Homo sapiens: one gene and its partners. The protein of the gene in region 5 interacts with the protein of the main gene of each other region in a pairwise test. Each region holds a gene or a part of one and is shown on either strand. Other genes may lie near its edges. The genes, in order: FAM3C, SYT15B, ADIPOQ, NKG7, CLEC2D and SEC22A.

The links.
Region 1: the proteins of CLEC2D (region 5) and FAM3C interact in binary tests that used the Homo sapiens proteins (3 or more experiments, as listed by UniProt).
Region 2: the proteins of CLEC2D (region 5) and SYT15B interact in a two-hybrid assay, tested with the Homo sapiens proteins (one large-scale study listed by BioGRID).
Region 3: the proteins of CLEC2D (region 5) and ADIPOQ interact in binary tests that used the Homo sapiens proteins (3 or more experiments, as listed by UniProt).
Region 4: the proteins of CLEC2D (region 5) and NKG7 interact in binary tests that used the Homo sapiens proteins (3 or more experiments, as listed by UniProt).
Region 6: the proteins of CLEC2D (region 5) and SEC22A interact in binary tests that used the Homo sapiens proteins (3 or more experiments, as listed by UniProt).

What each region holds. Positions count from the first base shown.
Region 1 is NC_000007.14:121,357,313-121,362,259, forward strand, and holds part of FAM3C (protein FAM3C precursor), read right to left. Parts: intron 2,816-4,947; coding exon 2,731-2,815; intron 1-2,730. UniProt on the Homo sapiens protein: May be involved in retinal laminar formation. Promotes epithelial to mesenchymal transition.
Region 2 is NC_000010.11:47,760,038-47,765,712, forward strand, and holds the start of SYT15B (synaptotagmin-15), read right to left. Parts: upstream 3,556-5,675; 5' UTR 2,968-3,555; coding exon of another isoform or gene 2,604-2,967; coding exon 2,597-2,603; intron 1,609-2,596; coding exon 1,404-1,608; intron 893-1,403; coding exon 750-892; intron 1-749.
Region 3 is NC_000003.12:186,840,777-186,846,466, reverse strand, and holds the start of ADIPOQ (adiponectin precursor), read right to left. Parts: upstream 3,758-5,690; 5' UTR 3,718-3,757; intron 911-3,717; exon of another isoform or gene 860-910; intron 1-859. UniProt on the Homo sapiens protein: Important adipokine involved in the control of fat metabolism and insulin sensitivity, with direct anti-diabetic, anti-atherogenic and anti-inflammatory activities.
Region 4 is NC_000019.10:51,370,653-51,374,932, forward strand, and holds NKG7 (protein NKG7), read right to left. Parts: upstream 2,003-4,280; 5' UTR 1,884-2,002; coding exon 1,727-1,883; exon of another isoform or gene 1,656-1,726; coding exon 1,509-1,655; coding exon of another isoform or gene 1,423-1,508; coding exon 1,288-1,422; intron 1,184-1,287; coding exon 1,125-1,183; 3' UTR 968-1,124; downstream 1-967.
Region 5 is NC_000012.12:9,667,518-9,672,936, reverse strand, and holds the start of CLEC2D (C-type lectin domain family 2 member D), read right to left. Parts: upstream 3,225-5,419; 5' UTR 3,203-3,224; coding exon 3,142-3,202; intron 1-3,141. UniProt on the Homo sapiens protein: Receptor for KLRB1 that protects target cells against natural killer cell-mediated lysis. Inhibits osteoclast formation. Inhibits bone resorption. Modulates the release of interferon-gamma. Binds high molecular weight sulfated glycosaminoglycans.
Region 6 is NC_000003.12:123,207,998-123,212,944, reverse strand, and holds part of SEC22A (vesicle-trafficking protein SEC22a), read right to left. Parts: intron 4,125-4,947; exon of another isoform or gene 4,008-4,124; intron 3,747-4,007; 5' UTR 3,728-3,746; coding exon 3,546-3,727; intron 1-3,545. UniProt on the Homo sapiens protein: May be involved in vesicle transport between the ER and the Golgi complex.

The DNA of each region.
Region 1 (4,947 bases), on a different chromosome or scaffold from region 5:
GTGTACGCACTTAACTTTCTTGAGTATAAGTGGAAGAAAACGAGGTAAAATTCAATGGCCTTAAATAAGGAAAAGCCATAATACATCAGCAGCAGTAAGCAGAATTTCTATTCATATATAAGAGAGGGTATATAACACAACTGGTAAATCACTGCAAATGTGCCACAATTAGACACCTGCCAAGATAAAAGGGTTATATATATATTAGATGTAGATTGCCTTTCTTAAGGATGTTGTCCATTTCAGTATAAAAGATATGATGCTTACAATTTCTTTTACTGGTATTTAGGAAAAGGAAATATTTGAAATATAAATTCGTGTGCCCCAAACTAATACAACTCAATTCATTTAAATTCACAGATGAATCATATATTGACCAAGTGACCAAACGTAAAGAAATTAAAGTTTAGATTTTTCCTTTTGCCCTAGAGGTTGAACTCTCTTCCAAAGCTGCTTTTGGTGCATTTAATGGGCACCAAAAAATAGCAGTTGAAGAGTAAACATCATTCCTCCCCTAGTTCTTAGTTGTGGCTATAATTTATTATTAGCATATTAGCAGGTTAAGGGGAGCAATTTTGATTCCCATCAGGTATAACAAAATAATCTGGTGAAAAACGGAGGTCATGTTTGTCAAGTCAGAAAAGTGGGGCCTTTTCTTTTTAATGTTAAAACTTCAAATTTTACACGTAATAGCCTATTCTCTCAGCAAAAGCAAATAGCAAGTTACCTGTTTTTTGATGAGAGCCTAATTACATCCTGTTTCATTCTATTTAGGTAGATGAAAATGCTTGAATAGGCGAGTTTTATGTTAACCTTCAATTTATGGATTTAATATATTCTTAGTTGAACCAGATAAAACGCACAATGTCAATGAAATTACTTCAGCTTACAACCATTTATAAAGTATCACTGTTTTCATGTAAATCTGTGATAATGTAGCTATAAAATAATACATTTATAAAAATCAATACATAAAAATACAAATTTCTGTATAAATCTTGTAGTATTAAGGCTCTGTCAATTAAAATCTATAAAATCTATAAATCTTGTAGTATTAAAGCTCTGTCAATTAAAATCTATAAAGGATGTTTTTTATCCTTGATAAGTCATCTGAAGAAAAGTCAGAGAAAAAATTATTTTTTTCTAGAAAGAAGAACATTAAAGGGGATTTAATCTCAACCAGAGAGGCATGAAGTACAATTACTTTTATAAAACAATTTTAAAATAATTGAAATAGTGTCTTTTTGGAACAGAGATAAACAGGTCAAGTGAATGGAACAGAACAGAAATTCCAGAGATAAAGCCAAATCTACATAAGAACATAGGCATTGTGTGTCATGGGGAAATTACAAATGGGTTTTTAAAAATACATGACAACAGTGAAATCACTGGAAGAGAAAATCTACTAAATATCTAACCTGGAGGTGGAAAAATACTTCTCAAGTATACAAGGAGAGTGATAGAAAAATACATAGACTATATAGGCATTAGTCTAAAATTCTAAAATTCAAAAAGCACCCTACACTAACAAAATTAAAAGCAAATAATGTACAATAAATACATTTCTTTTTACATTAGAAATGGTTAATATCCTTAAAACGTGAAGGGGTCTTACAAGTCAAGATAGGCCAACTCGAATGGTCAAAAGACAATTTACATAAAAAGGCAAAAGAAAAAAAAACCACTTGTGAAAAAAATCCAATCTCAATAATAAAGGCATATTAAAATAAGATACCTTTTCAAACTCTTAAAATTGAAACTTAAAAAAATTAACAATTGGTGCCATGGAACTTCTGAGAAAAATATAAAATTGGTAAAAAAATTTTTAAAATCCATTTTTAAAAACATGCACATCCTTTAATTAATCATTTCCACTTTAAAAAAAAGAAGTCTATCTTAAAGACATAGACATGGACTGTTCAAACATTTCTAAGATAGTCTATTGTGCTAAGTATGCAAATTGGAACTAGTCTGGGTCCAGCAATAGGCAACCCATTAAACAGGTTATAAATCATGACATTTTAAAAACCAGACTAGGCAGGCATAAACAATTTTTTATAAAGAATATTTAATAATAAGGGGAAATATTCACCACGTAAGTGAAGAGATATGCTATAAATACTAGCATTCTAAATATTTAATGCCAAAAAATGTGTCTTAAGTCATCTGGAATAGAAACTAAAATATCATCAATGTTTACACTGGGTAGTGAGATGGACTGGAACTTGGTCTCTTTGCGCTTTTCTATAATTTTCCAAATTTTTACAACATATACTATTTTAAGAAAAAGTTATAAAACTACTATATATTAAAATTATTTAAAATATAGCACACCTGTATCTTTGACAATTAACTCCATTTCTTGAAATTTACCCTAATGACATAATAATAGGGAAACTTTAAAGGTGAGCCCATAACTGCTGATGAACCATAAAAATGCTATTGAAGAATATTAATGCTAGGAAAAACAATTTCAGAATGTTAAAAAACAAAACATAAAAGTATAAAAAATGTTACATATGATGTGATTCTAATTTCATGACAATATATGTGTGATAAACATTTACATATAAAACCAGGAAGGAGGCAAAGTAAAAACAAAAATTGTTAGTTGTGTTTACCTGGTAGTTTGATTACTTTGCTCTATGTTACAGATTTTTTTTTAATGAAAATGTATTGCTTTTATAATTACAAATTATAGTTCCAAAAAGTTCTGTAAAGTTTACATACTTGGTTGCTCCATCATCGTATGTTCCCATTAAAACTATTGTTCCATCTTGTATGGCCTTCAGAAACTCAATAAATGGTGCCACATCTGAAGAAAAAGAAAGGGTTTAGGGTTTTAAAAAATGACTGAATAAGCATCACGATAATCTCTGAAAGTAGTATTATAAAACATGAAGTATCTGTAAAGCAATAATTTCCAATGTAAAGTAATCCAAAAGACAGACAAATCTCATAAAGAGTTTAAAAACTGTTAAATTTGTCCCTTAACATAATCCCACTATCAACTTACAATTTCCCATTCCTGATTTATCCTGTGTCTTTCGTATTGATATTCCTGGGGCTAAGTGAAAAAAATCATAGCAAAGTAAAGCATGACTTACGAAGTAAGAAATTCAGAGATCTCTCAGATTTGAATAATTGGGATCCTGAAAACCTTATTCTGGGGTCCATGCATAAGCTTAAGGAGGCATGGGAGGTGTGTGGACTCCTTAAGTGTATGTAAAATTGTATGGGCTGAGCACAGTGACTCACATCTGTAATCCCAGCACCTTGGGAGGTCAGGGCTGGGGGATGGCTTGAGCCCAGGAGCTTGAAACCAGCCTGGGCAATATAGTGAGACCTCATCTCAACAAAAAAATTTAAAAATTAGCCGAGCTTGGTGGCACATGCCTGTAGTCCTAGCTACTCAGGAAGTTGAGGCAGGAGAACTGCTTTGAGGCCAGGAGGTGGAGGTTGCGGTGAGCTGAGATCACACCACTGCACTCTAGCCTGGTTGACACAGCAAGACCCTGTCTCAAAAACAAAACAAAAAAACAAAAACGAAACGAAAAAAAGCATAACAATGTTTGTATGGGTACTTTACTAGAAAGAGGATACACAGCTTTTCTCCGATTCTCAAAGATATCTGTAATTTTTAGAAAATCTAAAAATACATATACACACAGATTTAAAGGCTATTTTAGGTATATCATTTGCTATAAACTGGGAGAAGGAATATGTTAGGTGATCACTAAAAGCCAAACTAATTGTAGCAAATATTACAGTCATTACTCATTTGATCTACCAAATCAAAATCCACAAGGACTTCAAAATAAACCACTTCAATGACTATAAACTGTTGATGCCAGATACATAGGTCAGATTCTAAAAACCACTTGACATCTTGAACTCTTTACAATGTCTGGGTTCCTTATAGCTCTGAAGTCTAATTCTACTCCAAAACTGGGTTACTTCAAATGTACTCAGTTTCTTTCCACAGCAAAGATGCCAAAGATTTTCGATAACTGATTATATTTCATAATAATAGCATTTTCAATTCAAAAAGATATAACAAGGCAGCTAACAAACTACTTCCATTTAAATGCAAAAGTGGCAATAAACTGCAACAATTTCCTAACTAGAAGAATGCTGCTAGCGGTAATTAATCTACCTGTGACAAGAGAAGTAAGGAATACCAGAGCTCCTGGTCACATGACTGATTTCAACAACAGCTTTGTAAGACTCTTTCTATCAATAAATTTTGGCAGGACCAATTTATGCCTTTAGAATCTAAAATTGATGGTCCCATTTTAAGTTTATACAGCTTTGACAGCTATGCAATGTTGTCCTAACATTATTTAATAACAAAATAATACACGGCATCTTTTGTTTTTTTGAGACGGAGTCTGGCTCTGTCGCCCAGGCTGGAGTGCAGTGGCAAGATCTCGGCTCACCGCAACTTCTGCCTCCCCGGTTCAAGGGATTCTCCTGCTTCGGCCTCCCAAGGAGTAGCTGGAACTAAAGGTGCATGCCACCATGCCCGGCTAATTTTTGTATTTTTAGTAGAGACGGGGTTTCGCTGTGTTAGCCAGGATGGTCTCCATCTCCTGACGTCGTGATCTGCCTGCCTCGGCCTCCCGAAGTGCTGGGATTACAGGCGTGAGCCACCACGTCCGGCTACATACCATCTTATTACAAGCTGAAGATATGTTGGAAAAGCTAAATTATCTGAGAACTCTTAACATGAATTTCAGGAAGCCTAATAGCTGTTGGCTTCTAGGGAATATATAAATGGAATGGGGAGGTGCAGGGGAGATCCTCATACTGATCAATCTCCCAAATTAAAGAATCAAAAGATAAACCAGTGTTGGCCTCCCTTCAAACTGGAGGAAAAAAACCCATTCTTCCGGGCAGCGTTCTTCTTTGGGGTGCCAGTCCCTTGCCTCTGCGTGCTGGTAACTT
Region 2 (5,675 bases), on a different chromosome or scaffold from region 5:
CTCAGCTAGCCTGACCACATCTGCCCCACTCTCCTCACCAGGCTAAACACATCCCCTCTCTCTGGTGCAGCTCCTCCAAGAAGCCTTCTCACCATGAAGGCATTGCATGGCCAGGCTGGGGATCCAGCAGAGTCCTGCCCCCTGGGATTGGCCCCCATCCTTGGAGGTCAGGACCTGTTTCAAGGACACAGTGCCCATCACCTGGCCTAGCCCCCTTCCATGGCGTCTAGGGAATGACTCAGCGATAAAACATTGCCTTTCTTCTTCCTCTTCAAATTAGAAGGGCCAAGGTGATTATTGGGTGGTTCCTGTGATGGTCTCTTGGTAGATCTTCAGGGCAAAGAGGTGGCAGAAAGCTGTGTTTGCAGCCCCTACCATTCTGTCCTCTTGGTCAACCAACCCATCATCCTAGAGTGGGACCCAGCACAAGTTCTGTACATGGCGTGCCTGGGTTCCAATTCCAATCTGTTGCTTACAGCCTCAGTTAAGACTATGTAAAATGGGGTGATAATTCCTCCCCCTCAGAGTCATGGTGAGGTCTCACTCCAAATCAGCACCCAAGGCCATATCTCACCCTCATGGGGTGCAGCAAGCACTTCATAAATGAAAGCACCCAGAAAGAGTGGTCCCTGGGTGGTCCCTGGCATCCCTGGCTGGTTCAGGTTGTGTTCCGGAGCCAAGCTGGTGAAAGCAGATGGGGCCACCCGAGCAGACCCTGACCTCTGGGCAGCCCTGGCAAGGACACTCACCAAGGCCGCCGCTGGAGGTGTGAGGCAGCAGCTCTGATGCCGGGCAGGGGTCCCATGGGGCATCGGCCCACTCTCCACTGTGCAGGGGCACCCAATCTCGGCCTTGAAGGGTTGGGGGCACCACGAATGGCACAGCTGGTGGCCTGTCCAGAGTCAGGGAGACAACATGTAGGTGGCAAGTGAATGGTGTGGTCTCAGAGCGCTCAGCCAGGACGGTTGAGCACCAGGGGCTGGAGGAAGAAAAGCCATCGGGAGCCAGGAGGAGGCCAGGGCACCATTTTCTGGGCCCATACCAGGCAACACACACACACACACGCACACACACACACACACACACACACAGCAGTGGGATTTGGAGAAGGAACACAGCACCTGACAGTGTCAGCCAGTCTGGGTTTGGATTCCTGTTCTGCCACTTACTAATTGTGTTCTCTGGACCTGTTGCTTATGTGCACTGAGCCTCAGATTCCTCACCTGGAACATGGGTTTCATAACACCTGCCTAATAGCTGATGTGAGGTTTCTGGGGTTTCTTTGTGATAGCTCCCAGCACCGAAGCAGCATAGAAGAGGCACCCCCATAAACAGAACTTTCCTTTTCGACCCCACCCTGAGGGAAATTCCAGGGGCGCACTTGGCCCCACATCCTGCCTCACCTGCTCAGTTGGGTCCTAGCATGCGGCTGGCAGGGCCTGTCCCGCTGCCCACTGGAGGCAGCTGTGGTGGCCATGGCTGGTGTCCCAGGCAGCTCCTCATAGGTGAGGGTGGCACAGAACCTTCTCCACAGACAGCAGCTTGCCCCGATCAACAGCAGCAGCAGCAGCCCCCCGATGGTGCCCCCAATCACCAGGGCCAGCTGCTCTGGGGGCAGAGACCACCAGTACTATGATGCCTGCCTGGGAAGGCCACTCTCCCTCACAGCCCTGGCCTGCTGGGGCAGAACTAGGGCAGCAACCCTGCCTCTGGGTTTGATCTCAGGAGTGATAGGAGCAGGCCTGCTGGGGATGGGTTCCGGGAGGGATGCTGCTGGCTAGGTTCCGCCAGCTCTCAGAGGAGAAGCCGTTTACCCCAGGGTCTGAGAGCCCTGGGCAGAACCTTCTAGTTTTCCTTGGAAAACAGCTGGCCCTGCCCTTGGGATTCTGGCTTAAAGAAGCCATTTCCTTGCGCTTCTGAGTAGAAATCAAACCTGCCCTCACCAGAACCTCCATATCCCCTGGGCTCCTGTTGAGGCCAGGAGGGGAGCTGGGGTGTGGACGCAGTCAGTTAAGGAAAGCCCTGAAAGGTACCTTCCCCCTGGTCTGCAATCAAACCTCTACCCTCTGGGGCCCTGGAACCTGCTGCAAGGCTGGACTCTTCTCTAACACCCGCTCCCTCCCCTAGCCCTCTATCAAGGTGAGCACGCGCTTAGGGGAGTTGGTGCGACGCGGTGGACGAGGTGGGGAGGAAGAGGGGGCAAGGCCCCATTGCTGCTGGCCCTCACACGTCCGCATTTGCGGGACCTAGGAGGCTTCGCCCCGGGGGTGCTCAGACGCTGGGTTCCAACCGCTGGCCACCTGGGGCGGGCCAAAAAGGTGCCTCCCTTAGGGTGACGTGCGGCCGCGGGGCATTCAGGTCTCAGGGATCTGCACTGGGTGGGGTGGTGAGAAGGCCGGACCCCCCACACCTCCTAAGCCGCAACTGACCGCGAAGAGCGGGCCTCAGCGTCTACTCCATCCCAGTGCCCCTCCAAGAGCGCGCCGAGGCCGGGCAGGGCAGGCGCTGCACCCCAGCGGGGGCGGCGGGGCGGAGGCAAGTGCTGGAAGGGTCGCAGAGGGGCCGGGGCTGGGCTGGGGAGGCGAGGCTCGCTTACCCGCCATGGGGCTGCTCCCGCAGGCTGGTCTCGCCGGTCTGGGCGGCTGGGGCTGGGCTGCCAGGCCGTCTCTTAAAGCGCCGCGGGGCGCCGTCGGGCGAGCACAGGGGCGGTCCGTGGTGCTGCTGGTGCCCAGCTGCGGCGCGGGGAGCCGCGCAGTGCACGGCAGGGGCAGGGACCCAGCGCCCCGAGGCCGCAGTCCCGCCCCAGCCAGTCCCTGGCCCAGGCCCAGGCCCGGCGGTGGAGGGGCGCAGAGCCGACCGTGAGCTCCCGGAAACCGCAGGGCTCCAGCCAGGGCGGGTCCCGGGCGCCAGGGGCGCCAGGGGCTCCCTGCGGCTTGGGGCAGGGTGCGGTGAGAGTACCACCCCCATCCCGGAGAGCAGGGCTACAGCCTTCACCGCCGCGTCTGACACAGGGCTCCGCACCCGACCCCTCACACCTGGTGGCCAGGACTGAGCCCCCGCCCTCCCAGATCCTCCTCAAGCCGAGGCCCCTCCAGCCGCAGCTCCGACCCCGGCTCGGGGGAGCCTTCCCGGATCCCGGGGTGGAGTCTCCGCGCGGGTCCCGGGCCCCAGCGCTGCCTGCCTGATGGCCTTGGGCAGGGATGCGGCGCTCGCGCACCCGTTCGCTCTCAGCGGACAAACCGGTCGAGAGCGCAATTCTGGAGCGGGTTCCAGAAGCTCCTGGGTTCCAATTCAGGCTCCTCACTCGCCAGCCCTGCGATTTGGGACAACTTAACGTTCGTATGCTGGGTTCAGTCTTCTCAATTGGGTTAATGTCCGTGAGGGGCTCTCGTAAGGGCGGCTGGCCTGCCGGTAACTTAAGAAGCATGTAAAGAACACTTAGAGCGGAGGAGCGGCGCGGCCCAGCCCCTGTTACGGTGGTTATCGGATGGAGGCCAGCGTCGCCTGGGTCCCCTCTGTACACCCAGCGCCTATTATTATGGTGATTATTAGAACGCAGGGCCCGTGCCCACTAGTCCAGGCTGGCGAACGCGCCTTGCGGGAAAGGCGGGAGTAAGGTCGCTGCGTGTCCTCTCTGGTCACCCCTCGGCGCGCCCTGGTCGCGCCCCTATGGTTCCCCCGCCGAGGCCTCGAGGCGTCTGAGTGGGGAGCGAAAGGAATGTGTGTATCTGTGGTGCAGGGGAGTGTGTGTGTGGGGGGGGGAGGGGGTGGTTGTGGGGGAGTGCGTGTTTTGGGGGGATGGACCTTCTCGTTTTACAGCCTTGAAGGTTATGTCCAGAGTCATAGCCTGGGTCCCACACCCCCGCGTCACCTGTGCCTGTCCTAGGGGCCAGTCAGTGTGCGTGAGGCTCCACCCTGCCTGGGCTTTGGCTCACCTAAGGCGAGGAGGGTGGTGAACTGGGGTGCCCCACTGGGCCGGGTCTGGGAGCCCTCAGGGCCAGGGTGCAGAGGCCGCAGCCACTCCCCTTCTAGGGTCTGGGCGGTGGGGGCATGAGAAGGCGGAGACCCAGGCCACTTCACCCAGTAACTGTCCTCAGCTGTGCGCTTAACTGGCGAGATCTCCGCTCTACTTGGAGACAGTCTGGGGTGTCTGGAGAATCCTCCCCCACTTCTGCTTACCCCAGGTCGCTGTGGGAGCAGGTGTCTCAGGAAATGGGGCCTGGGTCCCACCCAAGGCCTCGGGTCTGAGTTAGATGTCTGTATGTTTGTTGTTGCCCCTGCAACAAAGTACCACAGATTGAGTAGTTTAAGCCACACGCATGTTATCTCACAGTTCGGGGGGTCGGGAATCTAAACTGGGTTGGCAGGGCCTGTGCCTTCTGGAGGCAAGGGAGCTGTTTCCCAGCGTTTCCAGCTCCTAGAGGCTGCTAGCTAGTGGCCCTTTCCTTTGTCTTCAAAGCCGGCAGCACAGCCTTTTCTAACCTCTCCCACTCCAGGTCATTTCACATCAACTCTTTCTGCCTCCCTCTTGTAAGTGTGATACCCTACCTTGTTTTAACCTGAATTGACTGTCCCTTAGCTGAGAGAGCCAGACACACTCCATTTTGGCTCCTTCACTTGCAGCCCCTTACCCACCCCCCTTCCTCAAGGACTTAACTTGTGCAAGCTGACTCCCAGCACATCAAAGAATGCAATTAATGGATAAGATACTGTGGCAAGCTATATCCGCAGTTCCCAGGAATTTGCCCAGTTGATAGTACCCTAAGCCCCCACATTTGTGTCCGGTTGATGGTACCCAAAGCCCCCGCATCTATCGCCTTGTGATGGATTTAAAACCCCTGCACCTGGAACTGTTTGTTTTCCTGTAACCATTTGTCTTTTAACTTTTTGCCTGTTTTGCTTCTGTAAGAGTGCTTCAGCTAGGCTCCTCCTCCCCTTTCTAAACCAAAGTATAAAAGAAAATCTAGCCCTTTCTTCAGGGCCGAGAGAATTTTGAGCACTAGCCATCTCTCGGTTGCCGGCTAATAAAGGACTTCTGAATTCATCTCAGAGTGTGGCGTTTCTCTATAAGAGGCTCATCAGATAATCCAGGATAACCACCACCCCCATCTCAAGATCATTAACTTAATCACACCTGCAAAGCCCCTTTTGCTATGTAGTCACGGGGTTGGGGATGAGGACTTGATATCTCTAGGACCATTGTGTGGACCATGTTGTCCATGCAGTACCCTGGGAGGGGTGGCTTACATTTCCCCTTCCTCTGTCTAGAGTTCAGTGTGCCTCAACACTGGACTCAGGCAGCTAGCAAGGCTCAGGGGACCCCTACATGGAACCCGTCAGCTATCTTGACCCCTTCCCCCAGCTGCCATGCACCCCCACCTGACCACCCCAGTGGGGCATGGCATCCACACCAGCTGCCTCCATGATTGCGCCCGAGCTGTACTCAGGCTGTTCTGGGGGTGGAGTTGGGTAGTGGGATGTTTTTTGAAAAGGGAATCCCTTCTGGCACTTCCTGAGTGCCAGGCCCAGAGCTGCCATCTCTCGACCCCCATGCTGTGCTTTTCCAAAGTCCCCATCTTTCTCTGTGTCACCAAGTCCTGACAGCTGTTCCTCCTCTGTCCATCTCTATCATGGCAAAAAACCTTGCCCAGCCCTCCATCACCTCTCATCTGGAG
Region 3 (5,690 bases), on a different chromosome or scaffold from region 5:
AAGTCAGGAGTTCAAGACCAGCCTGGCCAATATGGCAAAACCCCGTCTCTACTGAAAATACAAAAAAATTAGCTGGGGGTGGTGGTGCCTGCCTGTAATCCCAGGTACTCAGGAGGCTGAGACATAAGAATTGCTTGAGCCTGGGAGGCGGAATTTGCATTGAGCTGCACTCCAACCTGGGTGACAGAGCAAGACTCTGTCTCAAAAAAAAAAAAGTATACAAAATCCTCAAATGTCAGAGCCAAAAGGAGCCCCAGAAATCACCTCACCCCTGCCTTGCTTTTACAAATGGGAAGGCTGAGGGGAAGGAGTAGGAATGCACTTATTAGAACCTTATAGAAGCCAGTTCCCATGCTAGATTTTACACGTTATTTATCTTCATCTTTACAATAACTCCATGAAGGAAGGAAATGAGCCCAACTTCAGAGATGAGGAAACTGACAGATTAAGGAGATGATCCCTCAGAGACTCTGTTCTGACTTCCTAACGAGTGAGCCTTCCATCACATCACGGTGCCTCCGAAAAAGCACTACACGGAGCTTCTCAGACTCAGCTTCCTAATCCGCGAAATGTGATCATGTGAGATGAGGAACATGAGAACACTGACACTGGCGCGAGTTCTTTGGAGTGTAATTTTCATAAGGCATTTTCAAAATTTATTTTACTTAATCTTCCCATAGCCCTGCTTTTGACTCTAACGTGTAGGAGAACCTGAGACTTGGAGAGGGAACGATGCTAGCTAATTCAACCACTGGATTGAATTATATCAAACTCCCATTTTTAAAAGTCAAAATGGGCCGGGCGCAGTGGCTCATGCCTGTAATCCCAGCACTTTGGGAGGCTGAGGTGGGTGGATTACCTGATGTCAGGAGTTTCAGACCAGCCTGGACAACATGGTGAAATCCCGTCTCTACCAAAAATACAAAAATTAGTCAGGCGTGGTAGCGGGCACCTGTAATTCCAGCTACTTGGGAGGCTGAGGCAGGAGAATCACTTGAATCCATGAGGCAGAGGTTGCAGTGAGCTGAGATCGCGCCACTGCACTCCAGCCTAGGTGACAAGTGTGAAACTCTGTCTCAAAAAAAATAAAAATAAAAATAAATAAAAGTCAAAGTGTAGAATATTGGCAGTTTCACACGGTGCAACCCAATAATAAATGGCATAACCAGGAATCAACTCAGCTTTGCCTAGCTCCCAGGAGCTTTGCCCGAAAGCCTTCACTCAGCCCTGGGAGAGCTGTCAATATCTCCATGCCCAACACACACACATACCCGCACCCATACACACACCTCCACCTATGCACGCGCACACCCACACACCACATCCACACATCCACATACGTACGCACCACCCCCCCCCACACATACACACCCATCCAAATGAGTGTGCGCGCGCGCACACACACACTCACACACATACATACTGTCAAGGAACTAATAAAACAGAGCATCCCACGCACCACCACATTTTTAGGATAAGTCTCTCTCCACATGATTGAATTTCTGATTGAAATTCCTGATTGAAAGTATCTCTCCAAAAGACATCACCTCTTGACTTTAGCCGTATGTCTGGGACCACCGGTCCACTGGCTTGACAAGGAGTAGGTGGAAAGTTTGTCCCTACAGCCACCTTAAAAAGAGCAAGCATATAATCCCAGCCTTTTGGGAGGCTGAGGTGGGAGGACTGCTGAGCCCAGGAGTTTGAGGCCCCCCAGCCAATATAGTGAGACCTCATCTCTACAAAAAATTTTTAAAAATTAGCCAGGCATGGTTGCACACACCTGTAGTCCCAGCTACTCAGGAGGCTAAGATGGGAGGGTCACTTGAGCCTGGGAAATCGAGGCTGCAGTGAGCTGTGATTGCACCACTGCACTCCAGCCTGGGTGATAGAGTGAGACCCTGTCCCCAAAAAAGACAAGGAGCCAGTCTTGTGTCTATTTTTTTTTTTTTTTTTTTGAGATGGAGTTTTGCTTTTTTTGCCCAGGCTGGAGTGCAATGCTGTGATCTCAGCTTAAGACTCCTCGGCCAGGCGCAGTGGCTCACACCTGTAATACCAGCACTTTGGGAGGCCGAGGCAGGTGGAATATGAGGTCAAGAGATCGAGACCATCCTGGCCAATATGGTGAACCCCATCTCTACTAAAAATATAAAAATTAGCTGGGCGTGGTGGCGCATGCCTGTAGTCTCAGCTACTTGGGAGACTGAGGCAGGAGAATCGCTTGAACCTGGGAGGCGGAGGTTGCAGTGAGCTGAGATTGTGCCAAAAAAAGACTCCTCAAGACTTAAGGAAGAGTGGCAGCAGGGACTGCTGAGGAAGCTGCCGGGCTCCCTGTGTACCACTGGCCTTCATGAACAAAGCTGACACCATCATGCTCCTTCGGACATATTCTGCTAGCATAAAGGGACCCCCATCTCCCCAACCGAATTAGGCAGAGCTGGCCTTCCTTCTAGCGGAGTTCCTAGGAGTGAGTTGGTGCCACCCCTTGTGAGGCTTGATCCAAAAACCAGAACCTCTCCAGACCAGGGATCCATGTCCTCTAACACAAGAGGGGCAGACCTAACCTCTAAAATCCCTCCCACTCTAACCTTCAGCATCCACAGCTCAAAACAACCAGGATGCCTCAGAAACAGCACTCACTGGGGCGAGCAGGATTAGGCTTCAGAAAAACCAGGTAGATCCAGTTTCTTCTGTCAGAAAATGTTTTTTTTTAATTACAATTTTTCATAAGTTGCCACTATATGCCAGGCTTTTCTCATTTTATCTCATTAGAGCCTCTTTTTCTTTTCTTTCTTTTTTTTTTTTTTTTGACACAAAGTCTCGCTCTGTCACCCAGGCTGGAATGCAGTGGCAACAATCTCGGCTCACTGCAACCTCTGCCTCCCAGGTTCAGACAATTCTCCTGCCTCAGCCTCCCGAGAAGCTGGGATTACAGGCACCTGCCATCACGCCCAACTAATTTTTGTATTTTTGGTAGAGGCGGGGTTTCACCATGTTGGTCAGGCTAGTCTGGAACTCCTGACCTCAGGTGATCCACCCGCCTCGGTCTCCCAAATTGCTGGGATTACAGGTGTGAGCCACCATGGCTGGCCTCATTAGAACCTCTTGATTACCTTGTAAGATATCCCTATACCTACATATATCCCCAAATCCATAGACAACAACCATGTCACACTCATTGTATCTTGTGAACCCAATCCACTGTCTAGCCCATAGAATTTGCTCAGTAAATATTTGCTGAGTAGAATAAAGTGGCAGAGCTGGATTCCTAATTCCAGTCTGAAGTCAGTGCTCAGCTTGACTTTTCTGAAGCTGCCTTCATATATGCTTCTTCCTTTGCCCTACCTGGTCAAGCTAAGAGGCAATGTATTCCCTTATCCCCCTTAATCGAATTGGACTTCATCTGTGGACAGACCCTTCCACCTTACTGACCCTAACTTTTTCTCAATAGGTATCCTGCTACAGAGCGAACTGGGCAAAATTCAGAATGGTTCCATGCATCTTAGAAGGAATGTCTGAAATAACCCTTTCTCTCTTGGGGCTGTGGGAGAACGGAGGAAGAAGCCCAGTGCATATCTGCCTCCACCAGTGCTGCTCTGACCAGAGTATCCACCTGTATCCACTCCCACACTACTACGGACGGGAGAGCCTGGGTGATCCCAGCCAGAGGCTATGCATGCATCCCCCACCCAGCCTGGAACTTCACAGAATTGCTCTTACCCTCTGGTATGGAATCAGAACCACAGACTGCAGTCAGAATGGAAGTGAGGAGGAGATGGCCCAGCCTCAACAGCCTGGTACTCACGGGGGCAGGCAGTCCCCACCTCACAATTGTCATTTCCCATTGGCCAACTCAGTGAGGGCCAGAGGCCGGTGGGCAGGCACATGTCCCTGGCAGTTGCCCACAGCCTGCACCCTAGGGAACCTGGTACAACCCAGCTTGGGCTTCGGAAGCCAAGTGGAGCTTCAGTCAAAGCACTTGTGTTTCCAGGCCTTGACCCTTATTTTGCCTCCTACAACAGCAACAGAAGATGGGGCAAAAGTCAAAACCACAGCAGGAAAACAAGATTTTTTTCCTGCATCTGACGGAGAAACTTCCTAATGTAAATGAATTAATTGCTCAGTGGTCCAGGAGGTCTCCCCCTCCCATAGATTTGCCCTAATAAGTCAGGGACGCCAATTATCACACCACAGTCTTGCTCACTGTGCATGATTAAGTCTGAGACTGTGTACGTTCAGACAGTGAGTGCTTCAGAAGGGAGCACTGTCAGAGGGGTCTGCAATCAGGTAAGAAATAGAGCACATCCTCCACTCTCTGACCTGGACCCTGGATTTAGGAAAGACCTTGCACATGAATTCTGAGAACTGGGGTGTGGGGAAGTTCCTGGAGTGGTGTGGGGCTTGGCAAGTTAAAAAGGCCCTGAATTCTTAAAGCTTGTGGCCTCGAATCGTAATTTGAATCTAATATAATAGAAAACTTACATAAAATGTGATATTGGAATACCATCTTTCAAGATTTTTTGGTTCCAAAATTTCGGATAACATTTTGACAGCTACCTTGGTATGTGTGTGTGTGTGTTTGTGAGAGAGAGAGAGCCTGTTTTTCCAGTTCCTTAAGCATATATATGCCTATTCTGTCTCTTGTGGAACCCAGCTCTGGCCTAGAAGCAGCCTGGAGAACTGGAAGCTGCCACCCACTTAGGTGTTCCTAGAAAGTTTAGGCTTGAAGTGGCAACATTCAACACCTTGGACTTTCTTGGCACGCTCATGTTTTGTTTTTGAAGGGCAGGATCTGAGCCGGTTCTTGCAAGCCACACATTCTGATGAATTAAATTACGACCCCAGCAAGGGCTTAGGATGCCAGCACCAACTTCAACAAGACATCCAAAACAGAATTTTCTCAGACAGAGGCAGGGCAAGTGTCTGCCTGCCCCCCAGATATCATCTCCACAGTCCACACAGAGCCTAAAAATCTACCAGTAAAGTCAAGTCCACCATTAAAGTAAAGATCTGATGTAAAGCCTCAGCTTCCTGCTAATGTCCAAATATTTCAAGAGAAGTCACATTAGGCCGTTGAGATGAGAGACATGAGAGACTTTCCAAGGTCCCCCGGCTTAAATAAGTGGCCCATGAAAATGAGGTTCCATATAGTTTAGCAGGCTGATTGAACCAAGAAGACAACAAAAAGAAATAGAAGCAACTCTCAATTATATCACTGTTTGATTTTTGTTATGGTGTTTTCCTATTTATTTTTGGTTTATGTTACTGTCTGTTGCTATTTAATAGAACATAAACTTCAGGTCAGGTGCAGTGGCTCAGGCCTGTAATCCCAGTACTTTGGAAGGCCAAGACAGGCATATCACCTGAGATCAGGAGTTTGAGACCAGTCTGGCCAACATGGTGAAACCCCATCTCTACTAAAAATGCAGAAATAGCCGGGCGTGGTGGCACATACCTGTAGTCCCAGCTACTTGGGAGGCTGAGACAAGAGAATCACTTGAACCCAGGAGGTGGAGGTTGCAGTGAGCCAAGAGCACCATTGCGCTCTAGCCTGGGTGACAAGAGTGAAACTCTGTCTCAAAAAAAAAAAAAAAAGTAAACTTCAGGAGAGCAGAGATTTTGCCTATTCAAAGTTGTATCCCTTAGTTCCTAGAATAGAACCTGGCACAAAGTAGGCAATAATAAATGTTGAA
Region 4 (4,280 bases), on a different chromosome or scaffold from region 5:
CCTTCACCCTGAAAAGCCTTGGGTCCCTAAGTCCTGCTCCTCCTGCCCCTGAATCTGTCTGGCTCATTCCCTCCTTTCCTGGTCCCAGGTCAGGCCTCATCATGTCCCACCTATTGCATTGCCAAGTTCCTCCCTCACCTTCTGGCCTCCCCTCCATGTCTACAGGGGGGTCTTTCTGGCACCCAGAGCTGACACTGTCCCTCCCCTGCCCACAATTTTTCTCCCAACTCCCCATCATGTTCAAGAGAAAGTCCAGCATGACATTAGAGGCCACAGCCCCCACCTGCCTCTCCCTCTTCATTTTCCATCCCCCGCCCCCCACATTCTATATCCTGACCCTAAATTACCGATCTTCATCCCCACAAGACTCCTGACTTTTCTGCACGTTCATCTTTGGGCCCCTCTGCCTGGATATTACCTTTCCCTGGCCCTTAAGAAGCTCCTAAATGTTCTCTCTCCAGAAAAGTCGTCTCCATCCCTCCACAATATGGTCAGTCTTTTTCCGGCATTCTCCCTGCACTGGGACTGCTGTCTGGCCTGTATTAACTGCTTCTGGTCTGTAAGTGCCTCCTCCCCACCACCCCACAGACTGAGCCCCTGCTGGGCAGGGCCTGGGTCTGACCCGTGCCAGTGTCCCCAGCATGGGGAAATGTGCAAAGAGAACTGACTGAGTGCAAGGAAGGGCTGAGTTCTGGCAAGGGGGACAAAATCAGAGAGGGAGAGAGAAGGAAAGAGAGCCAGCTAAAGGGAGAAAGACACAGGGAGGAAGAAAAGTGCTGGAGAAGGGGAGACATAGACACGGGTTGGAGCCTGTGTCCACACGGGCCGGGCACTCGTACTGGGCAGGAGCGCCCTGCAGGCTGGTCGGCCTGGTGGGCCCTCACCTTCCCTTGGTGCCCAGCTCCTACCATGGAGCTGGCAGACAGTTGGCTTATGTCTTGGCAGAATTAATCTCAAAATAACCAGATTCCAGCCAAATTTTGTTGAATGAATGAAGAAACAAGAGGAGGGGCTGGGGAAGGGCTGGAAGGGCGGGCAGATGTGGGACCAGACTTTCCCGAGGCTCCAGATGAGGCCTTTGGAATACAACGCTCAAAACTCATCTTGCCGCTCTTGCCTTCTGCTCACAAGGTTTCATAGCCAGGACGGGGACCGCCACAGTGAGCACCCAGGCTCAGGGCACCTGGGGAGCCAGAAAGAGTTTAAGCACTTGCCCCTGCCCTCTGTCCTCAGGGACCCCAACTGGACCCTCCCAAAGCTCCCCAGGGCAGTGGGCAGGATAGTCACCTGTACAGAGCAAGAGGATAGCTGAGACCCAGCCCAGGTAGAAGGACCAGGAGAAGAAGGTCTGGATCTGGGGGTGTGGAGGCTGGTCCCACCGCTCGCTGGTGTACACCGCCATGGCCACCACCATGGAGATGGCTGGGGACAAGGACAAGAGAGATGGCTCAGCTCCTCGGCAGGAATTCGCTGGCTCGCGATGCCCCAGTCCAGTCCAGAGTCCTTACCTGCAGCAAAGGCTGCGGTGGTTGAGACAAGCGGGCCGTGGCCTGGGGGGAACAGTGAGGGGAAGCAGGACAGGACCAGGAAGCTCACGGACACCAGGGCCCACAGAACAGCCATAATGCTGAAGGTCTGCGTCACGTGGATGTAGCCTGATCGGGAGAAGACCACTGAGCACCCATCCCCGCTGGCAACCCCTCTGTAGGACACCCATTCCCCTTACCTGATATGATGTCCCCATGCCCTGTTGGCCAGAGGCCCGAGTGAGCTGAGTGGGTGGGACCCACAGCCTCAAACCAGAAATCGGTGCTCAAAGCAATCAGGCAGAACATCAGGCCCAGGGAGCCCCCCAGCAGGGCCAGGGACCGGCAGAGCTCCATGGGGATAAGCTCAGGGCTTCTGGGTCCTGGAGGAGGAAGAGGCTGCTGATCAGACTCTTGAATCTCAGAGAGAAGGAGGCTGTGCACCCAGACTCCTGGGTCCTTAGAGCCCAAGAAAGAGAGAACAGCAAGCAGTTGGGGCAGTGAGGGGTCCTGCGCTTTGTCACATGAGGCTGGTTTGGTTTCACACAGTTCCCGGTAGCTTTTCACATACCCTCCCTTCCTGGATTGCACAGGCAACGTCCTCCCTCCCCTCCCTGGGGTCCAGTTCCCCGCTTAGTGTGTGATGGGGGAGGGCACTGAGGGTGTCAGATCATCAGTGGTTTGGGCGGTGGTTTAGTACTTGCCTCTGTCACAGATTCTACAACTCCCACCCATGGAACCTTCAACACCAAGTCGGGGCTTCCTGGAAGAGGTGAGAGAGAGAGGCTTGGGGGCCCTGAGGTGGGAGGAAGCCAATCAGGCTAGGGTGTACATTAAGGGGGAGGGCAGATGTGGCTGGAGGGGACAGCTGGGGATGTGTCATGCTTTCCTGTGGGTTATGCAGTCTTCCATTCTGGGAGAGGAAGTCCCCAAGTCTAGGGTCTCTACTGAAGGAGGGGACTTGGGAGTTAGAACTCCTGGGGCTTAAGGAGGAAGGAGCTGGGGGCCTGAACTCCAGGTCCTGAGGGAGGAAGAGGCGGGCAGGAGCTCAGAATCCTGGGCCCCAGTTTGGAGCATATGCCAAGGGCAGGCAAACAGCAGAGAATCACAATTCTGAAAGGTTTGCAGAGAGTCAGACATACCCACATCCTCATCTGATTAATGAGTTCAGTGGCATCCCTGCTTGGGTGGGGGCTCCAGCCTGGTGGCCTTTATCACCAGGATCGGGGGGCCTAGGGGGTGTTGGGGGACATAAGGATTTTGGTTTAGGGTTCTCCAGCCCCCCAAACGCTAGCCTCTTCCATCCACACCATCAGGTCCTGGCAACACCTCATCTACGAGCAGGTATAAGGTGACGGTACCACAGCCCAGGTAGAAGGCCCAGGAAAACTTGACCTCTGTGAAACGGTGATATGGTTAGGGTTTGTGTCCCTACCCAAATCGCACCTTGAATTGTGTCCCCATAATCCTCACGTGTCTAGGTAGAGACCAGGTGGAGGTAATTGAATCATGGGGCCGGCTTCCCCCATGCTGTTCTTGTGATAGTGAGTGAGTTTTCACAAGATATGGTGTTTTTTTAAGGGGCTCTTCCTGCCTTCGCTTGGCCTTCTTCCTGCCACTCTGTGAAGACAGTGGCTTGCTTCCCCTTCACCTTCCACCATGATTGTAAGTTTCCTGAGGCCTCCCCAGCCATGCTGAACTGTGAATCAAATAAACCTCTTTCCTTTATAAATTACCCAGTCTCAGGCATTTGTTGTTGTTGTTGTTGTTGTTTGAGACAGAGTCTCACTCTTGTCACTCAGGCTGGAGGGCAGTGGCAAAATCTCGGCTCACTGCAATCTCCACCTCCCAGGTTCAAGCAGTTCTCCTGCTTCAGCCTCCCAAGTAGCTGGGATTACAGGTGCCCGCCACCACACCCAGCTAATTTTTGTATTTTTAGTAGATTTCAGGTTTAGTAGATTTTCGGGTTTTCACCATGTTGGACAGGCTGGTCTTTAACTCCTGACCTCAGGTGATCTGCCCACCTTGGCCTCCCAAAGTGTTGGGATTACAGGTGTGAGCCACCACGCCCGGCCAGGCAGTTATTTATAGCAGTGTGAGAATAGACTAATACATAGGGAGTAGTCTGGAAGAGGACCTCTGTCTTGGAGATGAACTGGTCCAGCAGTCCCAGGACAGCTGGCAAATGTGGAGAATGGGAAATGACCTGGAAGACTGGTTCCTCTCCTTTATTGGAGAGACTCAGATCGGCAGCCCCCATCCTTCACTCAGATCTGCACCACTCTGAGAACACATTTATGAGCACAGGCTCCCAGAGGTGGCAGAGGCCATGAGCAGGCCAGGTCTCCGGAAAACCTGCCATGGTGTGCAGTGAGTAGCAGGTCAGAGCACACAGCCTATCTATCTGTGACCCTGACCCCCTCCCAAACCCAAAGCCATCCTTAACCCCAAACCCAACTCCATCCCCAAACTCAGTATCAAGCCCAGTTCCAACCACAAATTCAACCCATCCCTATCCCCAAAGTTAACCCTATTCCCATTCCTGAACACAACTCCATACCCAATCCCATCCCTATTCGTAATCTCCACCCTAGCTCCAACCCCCATCCTCAAATAGAACTCCATTCTCAGTCCCAACTACACACTCAACCCCATCCCCCGATTCGCCCCCATCCCCAAACCTAACGTCATTCTAATTCCCAAACTCAACATCATCCTTATTCCCAGTTCCAACCCTTATACCCTTCCCACCCT
Region 5 (5,419 bases):
TTCAGAGAGGAACATAAATGACCTGATGGAGCTGAAAAACACAGCACGAGAACATCATGTTGCAAACACAAGTATCAATAGCTGAATTGACCAAGCAGAAGAGAAAATATCAGAGCTTGAAGACTCTCTTGCTGAAATAAGGCAGACAGACAAGATTAGAGAAAAAAGAATGAAAAGAAATGAACAAAACTTCCAAGAACTATGGGACTATGTAAAAAGACCGAACCTACCACTGACTGGAGTACCTGAAAGAGACAGGGAGGATGGAACCAAGTTGGAAAACACACTTCAGGATATAATCCAGGAGAACTTCCCCAACCTAGCAAGACAGGCCAATATTCAAATTCAGGAAATCCAGAGAACCCCAATAAGATACTTCATGAGTAGATCAACCCCAAGACACATACTCCAAGGTCGAAATGGAAGAAAAAATATTAAGGGCAGCCAGGGAGAAAGGTCAGGTCACTGACAAAGGGAAGTCCATCAGATTATGAATTTTGAGTGCTACAATATGCCAATGTAGGTTATTAATTGTAATAAATGTACTGCTGGTGAAGAATGTTGATGTTAGAGACTGCTATGGTTTGAATGTGTCTCCAAAGTTCATGTGTTAGATACTTAATCCCCAATGCAATAGTGTTGAGAGGCAGGTCCTTTAAGAGGTAATCAGGTCATAATGTCCTTATAATGGGAGTGGGTTTACTATCACGAAAGTGGATTTGTTATAAAAGCAAGTTTGGTGCCTCTTGCTCTCTCTCTTTCTTATGCATGTGCTCTCTTGCCCTTCCAAATTTTGCCATGGGATGATGGAGCAAGATGTGTTTCTCAGTCTTGAACTTTCCAGCCTCCAGAACTATGAGCCAATAGATTTTGTTCATTATAAATTACCCAGTCTTGGGTATTCTGTAATAGCAGCACAAAACAGACTAAGACAGAGTCTATATATGTGTGGCAACAAGGAGAAAATGAAAAAAAAAACTACCTTTCTCACAATTTTGCTGTGATCCCAAAATGGCTCTAAAAATATGGTCTTTAAACAAAACAAAAAAGAGCAAAAGGAAAAAGGATATACTAGCAGCAGATCTTACAAGAATATCCAAATTTAAAGAGCCATCAAACCAGTGGTGAATTTAAATTTCCCTCCTCTAGTATCACTGCCCCGAACTTAATACAGCCAGAAACATGGAATTGAGCCTCTGTCAGCATAAAGAGAGGGCTCCAGGAGAAGCACTAGAGGTATGGTCTGAGGAACAGAAAAGCAAACTCCTATCTCAAATAGAGTGTGAAAATACCACGTTTATTTTTTCTCCCCCTCTTGTCTACATTCTCATGTGCCTCAAACCTCAGGCAATCTGATGATGGTAGGGGAAACTACAGCAACATGCAATAGCCAAAACCTTGAGAAAGGTTAATCCTCGGCCGGGCGCGGTGGCTCACGCCTGTAATCCCAGCAGTTTGGGAGGCCGAGGCGGGCGGATCACAAAGTCAGGAGATCGAGACCATCCTGGCTAACACGGTGAAACCCCGTCTCTACTAAAAATACAAAAAAGTAGCCGGGCGTGGTGGCGGGCGCCTGTAGTCCCAGCTACTCAGGAGGCTGAGGCAGAATGGCGTGAACCCAGGAGGCGGGGCTTGCAGTGAGCCGAGATCGCGCCACTGCACTCCAGCCTGGGGGACAGAGTGAGACTCCACCTCAAAAAAAGAAAAGAAATCTAAAGTCAATCCTTTCCATTCAGTTGAGCTGTAGCTCCATGAGAGTGGGGCCAAACCTCTTGCTTTTTTTTTCTTCTTTCTCACTGTCCGTCTGCCACATGAGCTTAAAGATGCAGCTATAATTGCAGAAGTATATGGTTCATCAGAATAAAAGGAGGCCCGCATTTCTAGCTGGAGGATGGAAAGGAGAAGCCCCTGGGAACCTGAAAGTACGGGTCAGATGGTGAAGAGGAAGAAACTTTAGAAAGAGACCCATGAACATTATTCATAAACTCCTGGATTCACCTGCCCCTCAACTTATGCATGCCTAGATATGGTTCTAATTGGCACACTAAAGATGCTAAGACCTGAACTAATGAGTAGAGCATTGCACAGTTCCCAATTTCACCCCTGGTTGATGCACATGTCTGAATAGCACTACAAAGGCTTTCAGAATGGAACTGACATTGGAACCAGATCCCACAGATTGTCTTCATCTCACCAGGGTGATTGCTTGCTAAAACAATAGTATCAATATACTCCAAAATTTAAATAAGATCCAGTCTAACTAAATATTTGTTCAAAATGTTCAAATTACAATCCAAAATTACACAGTATATGAAGAACCACGAAAATGTCAACTTCCATGGGGAAAGAAAACACAAGCCAAGGAGGACATGACAGAGATGTTGGAACTATCCGACAAACAGTTTAAAGCATTTGGTATAAAATGCTCAAAATACCCAATGAATGAAGAAATAAATGAAGTCATTTAACAACATTTAGAGTTCATCTTTTTCTGCCTCTGAATTACCTTTTCTCCAAATTGATTACCTTTTAAGTTGGGAGGAGAAAACTCCAAACTTTTAAGTCCTAAGTTATAAAACCTTGATATTCCCTAACTGTGGCAAAAGTCATTTTTTTCACTTACTAAAGCATCATATAAAGCTATATATATATATATTTCCAGTGCATCCAATGTAACATAATTCCATTAGAATGCCCTACTAAGTTTCTACTCAACCTTTGTTACTTTTTTGATTTGTAAATGTCCTTTACATACTATTTTCTACCTTTTCTCTCTTAAGAGCTTCCATGATAGGTTTTCTACCTATGTAATAATGATGGTATCTTGTATCTGAGTAACACTTTAGAGTTTGTATAGATTTTTTTTTAGTGAAATTAACTGTTATTTTCAATCCTAAACTTAACCTTATCTCATTGTCTTACATCTTTCTCTCATTGTTCCCTCTCCTTAGTTGTTAGAACTGGGAATATAAATATATGCATGTTTTACACAAATTATAAGCCAATTTATGGACTCCCACATTCCATCTCTTATCCTTGAAAACTTTTTACTAGATCAGCACCTTTCCTGTGTGAGCCCATCACTACCACTACCTTCCCATTCCAGTCCTCACACTTACTCTGTAGAGCCCAGCTTCTTACCTGGGTTTGCAGGCAATTCAGATGGTGTAATGTCTTTCTCCACATTGTTACTGTCATGCATTTTGCCTCCAGTTTCTATGAGTGATCTAAACCACAGTCTCTACGTTTTCAACCCCAAGAATGATTCAAAACAAAACAAAAAAAAAGCCCAACGACTAAAACGTGTAAGTGTGTAACCGCCCCAGTAACTCAAAATGTCAAGCCTTTAAGTTAAATATAGCTAGAGGAACAAATGAAGCATAAATTGTTTCAAAAATCAGCTCATCACAACAGAATAAACTGGTGTTTGTAAGAATTTTAAAAAGTTGAAGCTACTTCTCTAACAGTATTTTGGTTACGAAAGAAACTAATGTTTGATAACTTAAAATTTCTTTGACTATTAAAAATTATAATTGTATTTTGTGCGGTACAAAGCAATATTATGATAGAAAATAAGAATTTATTGAAAGGAAGGAGTTGGCTCTCAGAGGAAATGAATGTTAGGTAAGTAAAGACAACAGCAATTTTAATCTCAAATTAAAATTCATTCCCAAGAGTTTACGCTCATTCAAAAAATATCTTGTTTTCAATTTCTTCAAGATATTTTGGGAATTTGCTGCTATGGCTGCTACAACAACTTTTCAAAAATGGGCTTGAACGGTGTGCAGCTTCTGTGCTCCCTCTGGCATGATCCAGGAGCACAGAGGCTCTTTAGCAGCAAGAGCTTCTTGTCAGATGTGTTGATTTCTTGTATATAAATGCCAGTAAGGGCACCTTTTACTAAAATATAATTTATAGTAATGTGCACAAATCATAAGCATACAACTAAACACATTCATTAAAAATATAACATGTAACAAGTGCCTAGATGAAGTATATCTTAAAACCACGTAAAACAATACCAACACGCTATGTGCCCTACTCATGTCCTGCAACGCTCATTACCCCAAATACAATCTCTATCTTAACTCTGACAACATATTTTCCCTGCTTTTGAATTCTATACAGTAGCCCCCCTTACCTGTAAGAAATAAGTTCCAGATTGGACAGCTATTGCCTTTATCAAATAGAAATGAAGTTGCATTAGGACTGAGTTCCAGTTTCTGTAAGATTTTATATATCTTTTTCTTTACTATTTCATCATTTCTAGTTTGTCCTAGGACCTATGATAAAGCCTTCTAGTAATTCCATCTGAGAACCTGCTTTTTATCAAAGCTGCTTCTCTTTCTTGGAAGTTGAATTTGGTTTTGTCTCCTGAACAACATGTGATTGCCAAAAGTTCAAGTCTGTTTTTCACATAGTTCTTCCTAACCTCCTTTCCTGTGAAATTTAATAATTTGAAAATTGCTTGAGAGAAAAATTTTTCTCATTTCTTTGGCCCTCTCTCCTCTCTGGGGGTTTTGGTCCTTCAAGTGCTTTAGGAAGAGATTTTTCTCTCCCCCAAAAAAATGCCTGGTATCCACAGCCCTCTCCCCAGAATCTCAGCATCTGACCCACTGCCAAGATGCCCCTAAGAGAAGGGTGGCTCCTGGAATGCTGACTCACTTCTCTGTGGCCCCTTTCCAGAATCTTCGTTCTGCCTCCAGTTGCCTTGAACACTCTCTAATATCTTAATGAAATCCTTTTTCTTCAATTCTAACTCTTCTAGTTGTTCTCAGCATGAGTTTGATGTCTCTCCAGTTATATTATCATACACAGAAGTGGATATGAACTGTCAGGCTTATCCCTTTTATATCCTTTTATAATTTCATTGTTAGCTTAAAGGGGACAAAAGGTAAACCCTGATAAATTGAGATTTCCACACTTATCTTGGAATTTCCACACTAATCATCTTGGAATTTCCACACTAATCTTGGACCTTCCAGTGAAACTACTATTACTTTTACTGTTACTAGCCTGGCATGACAACATGCCAGGTTATTACTGCTTACTATGCTCCATACACATTAATATGAGATTTAAATATGTGTTCTTATTTAATTGGCATAACTAACTAATGAGGCTGATATTACCTTTATTTTTCAGATGATTTTGGGTGAGGGACTAACTAATATGTCTAAGTTCACAGTAAGCTATAGAACCCATGACTGACAGATCTGATATGAAAACTACTTTAAAGGTCAAATATCAAATGACATGGTATTTGTGAGTTAGTCACATCATTTATTCATATCAATCTCTTGGTTTCTACGTTGCTGTAAGTTTCTCCTTATGTGGAAACTAAACTGAAAGTAAGTTCATGAAGTCCTAAAGATGTACATAATCATTTACCCTTTAACAAATATTTTCAAACTTAACA
Region 6 (4,947 bases), on a different chromosome or scaffold from region 5:
AGGAAAAACAATGTTTTTATCCAATGGACACTAAATCCTATGGATTACCCCCTTTGCTTTGGCCACAAGGAAACTCAACGGTAATATCTGCAACCTTTTTCTAACAAATGGATGGACTATCTAGTTTGCATCTCCAGAAGGAAATGTTACCTCAGTTTATTATTCTCCTATCTCTATTTTCCTTCTTTTGACTCCCTTACTTGGCCCCTTGAATTTTTTTTTTCCTAAATTGCCTCAAATCCTTTGTGTGGAATAAGCTGGAGTACAACTAACTAAAACTAAATGATACAAAATCTAGAATTTTCAGTTAAATAGAATGAAGGGATGTTAAAACGTTACATTTTACTTTACTTTTAAGAAAAGTCAAAATAAATTTTTTTAATTTTAAAAGAGAGTCAAAAGAAAAAAAATTGCAAAAGTTTAAGTCCAGCACACCTACCAGAATTAATATACATTCAAGCCAATCTCCTAAAACTTTGATATTTGTTTATACCACTATACATTCACAAATAAAACTCAGAATAATGACCCAGGACACTAACAGAGCCTATTAAATAAAATATTGAAATATTTCAAGTTTTTCCTCTAAAAAAATAGAAGTAGGTTGAGACATCATTTTACATATATTTTAATCACCATAATCACAATATTTTCTAATTAAACCCTCAGAAACCCCAATTAAATATAACATCTTACCATTATCCAGGTGATCTAAGAAATTGTGGACATTCTCCAAGGTTCTAACCTGGGCCCTCTCTCTAAACCCAGTAGGCACTTCTCCCCTCACAATATCAACCACATCTACGTGAATGATTCCAAAATCTCTATCCCATCTCCACTGAACTACCTTGTCAAAACCTCAATTTATTTATTTTATTTATATATATTTTTTGAGACAGGGTCTTGCTCTGTCACCCTGGAATGCAGGGGTGAGATCATGGCTCACTGCAGCCTCAACCTCCTAGGCTCAAGCGATCCTCCCACGTATGTCGCCACAGTAGCTGGGACTATGTCACGCCTGGCTAATTTTTTAGTTTTTTGTAGAGACAGGGTCTCCCCATGTTGCCCATGCTGATCTCAAACTCCTGGGCTCAAGTGATCTGCCTGCCTCGGCCTCTCAAAGTGCTGAGATTACAGGTGTGAGCCACTGTGCTTGGCCTAAAACCTCAAGTTAAATAATTAAAGTGGGCCAGGTGCAGTGGCTCATGTCTGTAATCCCAGTACTTTGGGAGGCCAAGCAGGAGGATCACTTGAGCCCAGGTGTTTGAGGTCAACCTAGGCAACATGGTGAGACCTCATCCCTACTAAAAATAAAAAAATTAGCTGGGTGTGGTGGTGTGCACCTGTAGTCCCAGCTACTCAAGAGGCTGAAGTGGGAGGATCACTTGAGTCCAAGAGGTTGAGGCTCAGTGAGCTGTCATCATGCCACTGCATTCCAGCCTAGGTAACAGAGCAAGCCCCAGTGTCTTAAAAAAATGATCAAAATGGAGCTTCATTATCTTTCTCTTCTGCCTCACACCTCATAAACAGTCTGTTCCAAAGATCTCATTTCTGGCAATGACACCAACATTCTGTCCAATTCCAAGGCTTCAGTCATCTTTGCCCCTTCCTTCTTTTCATCTCTGGTATTCCATCCTATCCAGCTTGGTCACTTCTTTTGAAGTGATCCAACTTCAAAGTGATCCCCAATCAAACTATTTCTCATTATCATTCTAGTTCTTTTGGTGTTCTAATTTTCATTTGCACGTTTATTTTCTTACTTCAGGCCCTAATAAGTTGGCCTCTCTGCCTTATCTCTCTCCTCTTGGACTGTCCACTCACCCTAAGTTCCACTGTCTCAGGATTGTTTTTATCAAGTCACTTCCCTTGAACCTGCAGCACAGCTTCCTATAACATATTACATCAAAGTCACGTCCTTCAATCTGAACTTTCAGGGCGATCCAGGATCTGGCCCCACAATGATTATCACGCATGTCTCACAACTATCCATAAATCACCATCCACTGACCCAGGATAAGCATGTTAATACACCTACCATGCTAAGTCACATTCTTTGCTTATTCTGCCTCTCCTCCGTACACCTGGAATGCCCTCCTCCCTGCCTTAGCCAACTCTTATTAATTCTTCAGGACATGGCTCATGTCTCATCTCAACAACGAAGCCCTCTGCTTATTATATCCTATATGGACTGTGTTTTTACCTTATTTCCTTCTGTATGCATAATCAATATCCAGCTTGATATCAGACATTAATTGTTCTCTAATTGTTTCACGTCTAAGCTTTCCAAGGTGGTCTCATCCATTCCCATGGTTTTAATCACAAACTGTAAGCTGACTTCCAAATCTAAATGTCTATACTTGTCCTCTTCACTAAGCTTCAGACTCATATATCCAGCTGCTTACCTAGCAGTGCCCCTTGGATGTCTAATGGGCATCTCAGATTTAACATGTCCAAACAGAACTCTTACTTTTTACCAAGGAGACGCACTTATCCTCTCCTTTCTTGCTCATTTCAGCTACATTATTCATCCAGTTCCTCAGGCCAAAAAACTACAGGTGATTATTCTTCTTTTACCTTCACATCCTATTTCAATCCAGTAGGAAGATTTGCTGGTATTAATCCCAAAATATAGCCCCAATCTAACTACTTCTATTCATTACTACCCTAGCTCGTTACAATCAGCACCTCCACCTGAACTTCTCTGAGTCTTCCATCTGACCTCTCTGCTTCCACTTCCTCCTTTATTCTTCACAGTGCAGGCAGAATGATCTACTCTAAGCCAAATGAAATCATGTAACTCTATAGCTTAAAACTACCCAATGGCTTCCTACTGCATTAGACTAAACAGACTAATAGACTCCAAACTCACTACATAACTTGCCCCATTCCTACCTTTCTGGCCTCACTTTCTGCAACTCTATTAATTGTCCATAATTCTTCAGGATCACTGGTTTTCTTTCTGTCTCTTGGCATGTAAAAAAGGGCTTCTCCACTGGCTGCTACCTCTGCCTTGCTCTTCATCCACAGCATCCTTCATATAATTACCTCCTCTCTCATCTTTTAGGTCTCTGCTCAAATGTCACCCTCTCAGAGAGTGTCTTGACCACAATAAATAGTCACTCTCTATCCCATTGCCCAGTTTTACTTGATTTGTATGTGACTCAGTGATAAGTGCTACCCCCTCCCACTAGACGTAAGTTGCTTCAGTTCTTTGAGGGCAGATATCAGGTAAAAAATTTTTATTTCCAATTATAGTTTGCTTACTACAACCCTAGGTATGTAAGAATGCAAATAAATATTTAGTGATCAACTTAAAAGAGGGATATCTATGATCTGCACAACTATAAAATTTCCCAGAGCCAGATACAAAGAAACTACAAAAAGGCTGCTGCTGACATGATGACTATTTAGTATAAGTTCAGAACAATATGATGCTCGACTTGAACAGGTTTTCCTAATCACTCCTTTCTATTGCAACCACTTAAACTTCATTAAAATGACAACTACTGGGCAAATGAGTCAAATGAAGCAAACTGAAGTCTTACTTAATGTTATAATGTCCAGTTTTCAGTGTACATCTATCAGGAAGTTGAGCAAGTTTCCTCGAAAGCATTTTAAAATACTTTCTGCACTCCTGCATTCCTGTGCTTTGTTCATAATCAGTAGAAGCAGAAAGTGGCAGTCCATCTCTGACACGAATGACTGAGGCAGATAAAATCATAGACATTTCAACCAACAGAGAAGACCTAAAACAAAATGAACAATTTGGGTTACATAAAAATTAAAGCCAAACTTGATAAGCATATGTAAAAATGTTCAACTTACTAGTAATATAAGAATAGTAATTAAAATGGCCAGGTGTGGTGGCTCACACCTGTAATCCCAGCACTTTGGGTGGCTGAGGAGGGTGGATCACAAGATCAGGAGTTTGAGACCAGCCTGGCCAACATGATGAAACCCCTTCTCTACTAAAAATACAAAAATTAGCCAGGCGTGGTGGTGCACACCTGTAATCCCAGCTACTCAGGAGGCCGAGGCAGGAGAATTGCTTGAACCCGGGAGGCAGAGGTTGCAGTGAGCCGAAATCGCGTCACTGAGCTCCAGCCTGGGCGACAGAGTGAGACTCCGTCTCAGGAGGAAAAAAAAAACAAAAAACTAATTAAAACAACATACTATGCTTCACTTAACATATAGCTTTTGTTTTTTGTTTTTTGTTTTTTTTTTTGAGACAGCATCTTGCTCTGTCACCCAGGCTGGAGTGCAGTGGCGCCATCTTGGCTGACTGCAACATCCCCCATCCAGGGTTCAAGCAATTCTCATGCCTCAGCCTGGGTTCCCATGCCACAGCATAGGATGTGGCTGGGACTATAGGCGCCTGCCACAGTGCTGGGATTACAGGCATGAGCCACCACACCCAGCCACATTAGCTTTTTAAAAAATAATACTTCTGTCTGGCATTCTCATAAGTACAGATGGAAGTAAAAACTGGTACAAACAGTTCTCAAAATGATTTGGCAATTTCAACAAGAGTCTGAAGGCATACCTTTTAACCTCAATAAATTTAAATATATACCTGTCTTGAGAAAAATAATCAGAAATCCAGGCAAAATTTTAAACAGAAAGACATTCTTCCACTCAAATAACTGAAAGCAATCTAAATATCCTATAAAATGGTGATGGTTAAGTAAATTATAGTATATTCATATAACAGAATATAATGCAGCAACTAAAAGTTATGTTTGTGGAGAAAGTTTAATAATGTGGTAAAATGCTTACATGTTAAGGAGAAAAAAGTAGGATAAAAATTGCAAATGTTGTTTTACACAAACATAAGGATAAAGAGACGAAGATAAAGAGAAGGAAAAAGGGATTGAAAAACGGATGCAGAAAAAGATGCCAAATTAAGAATATGCTCACCTCTAAGAAATGGTATTATTGGTTATTATT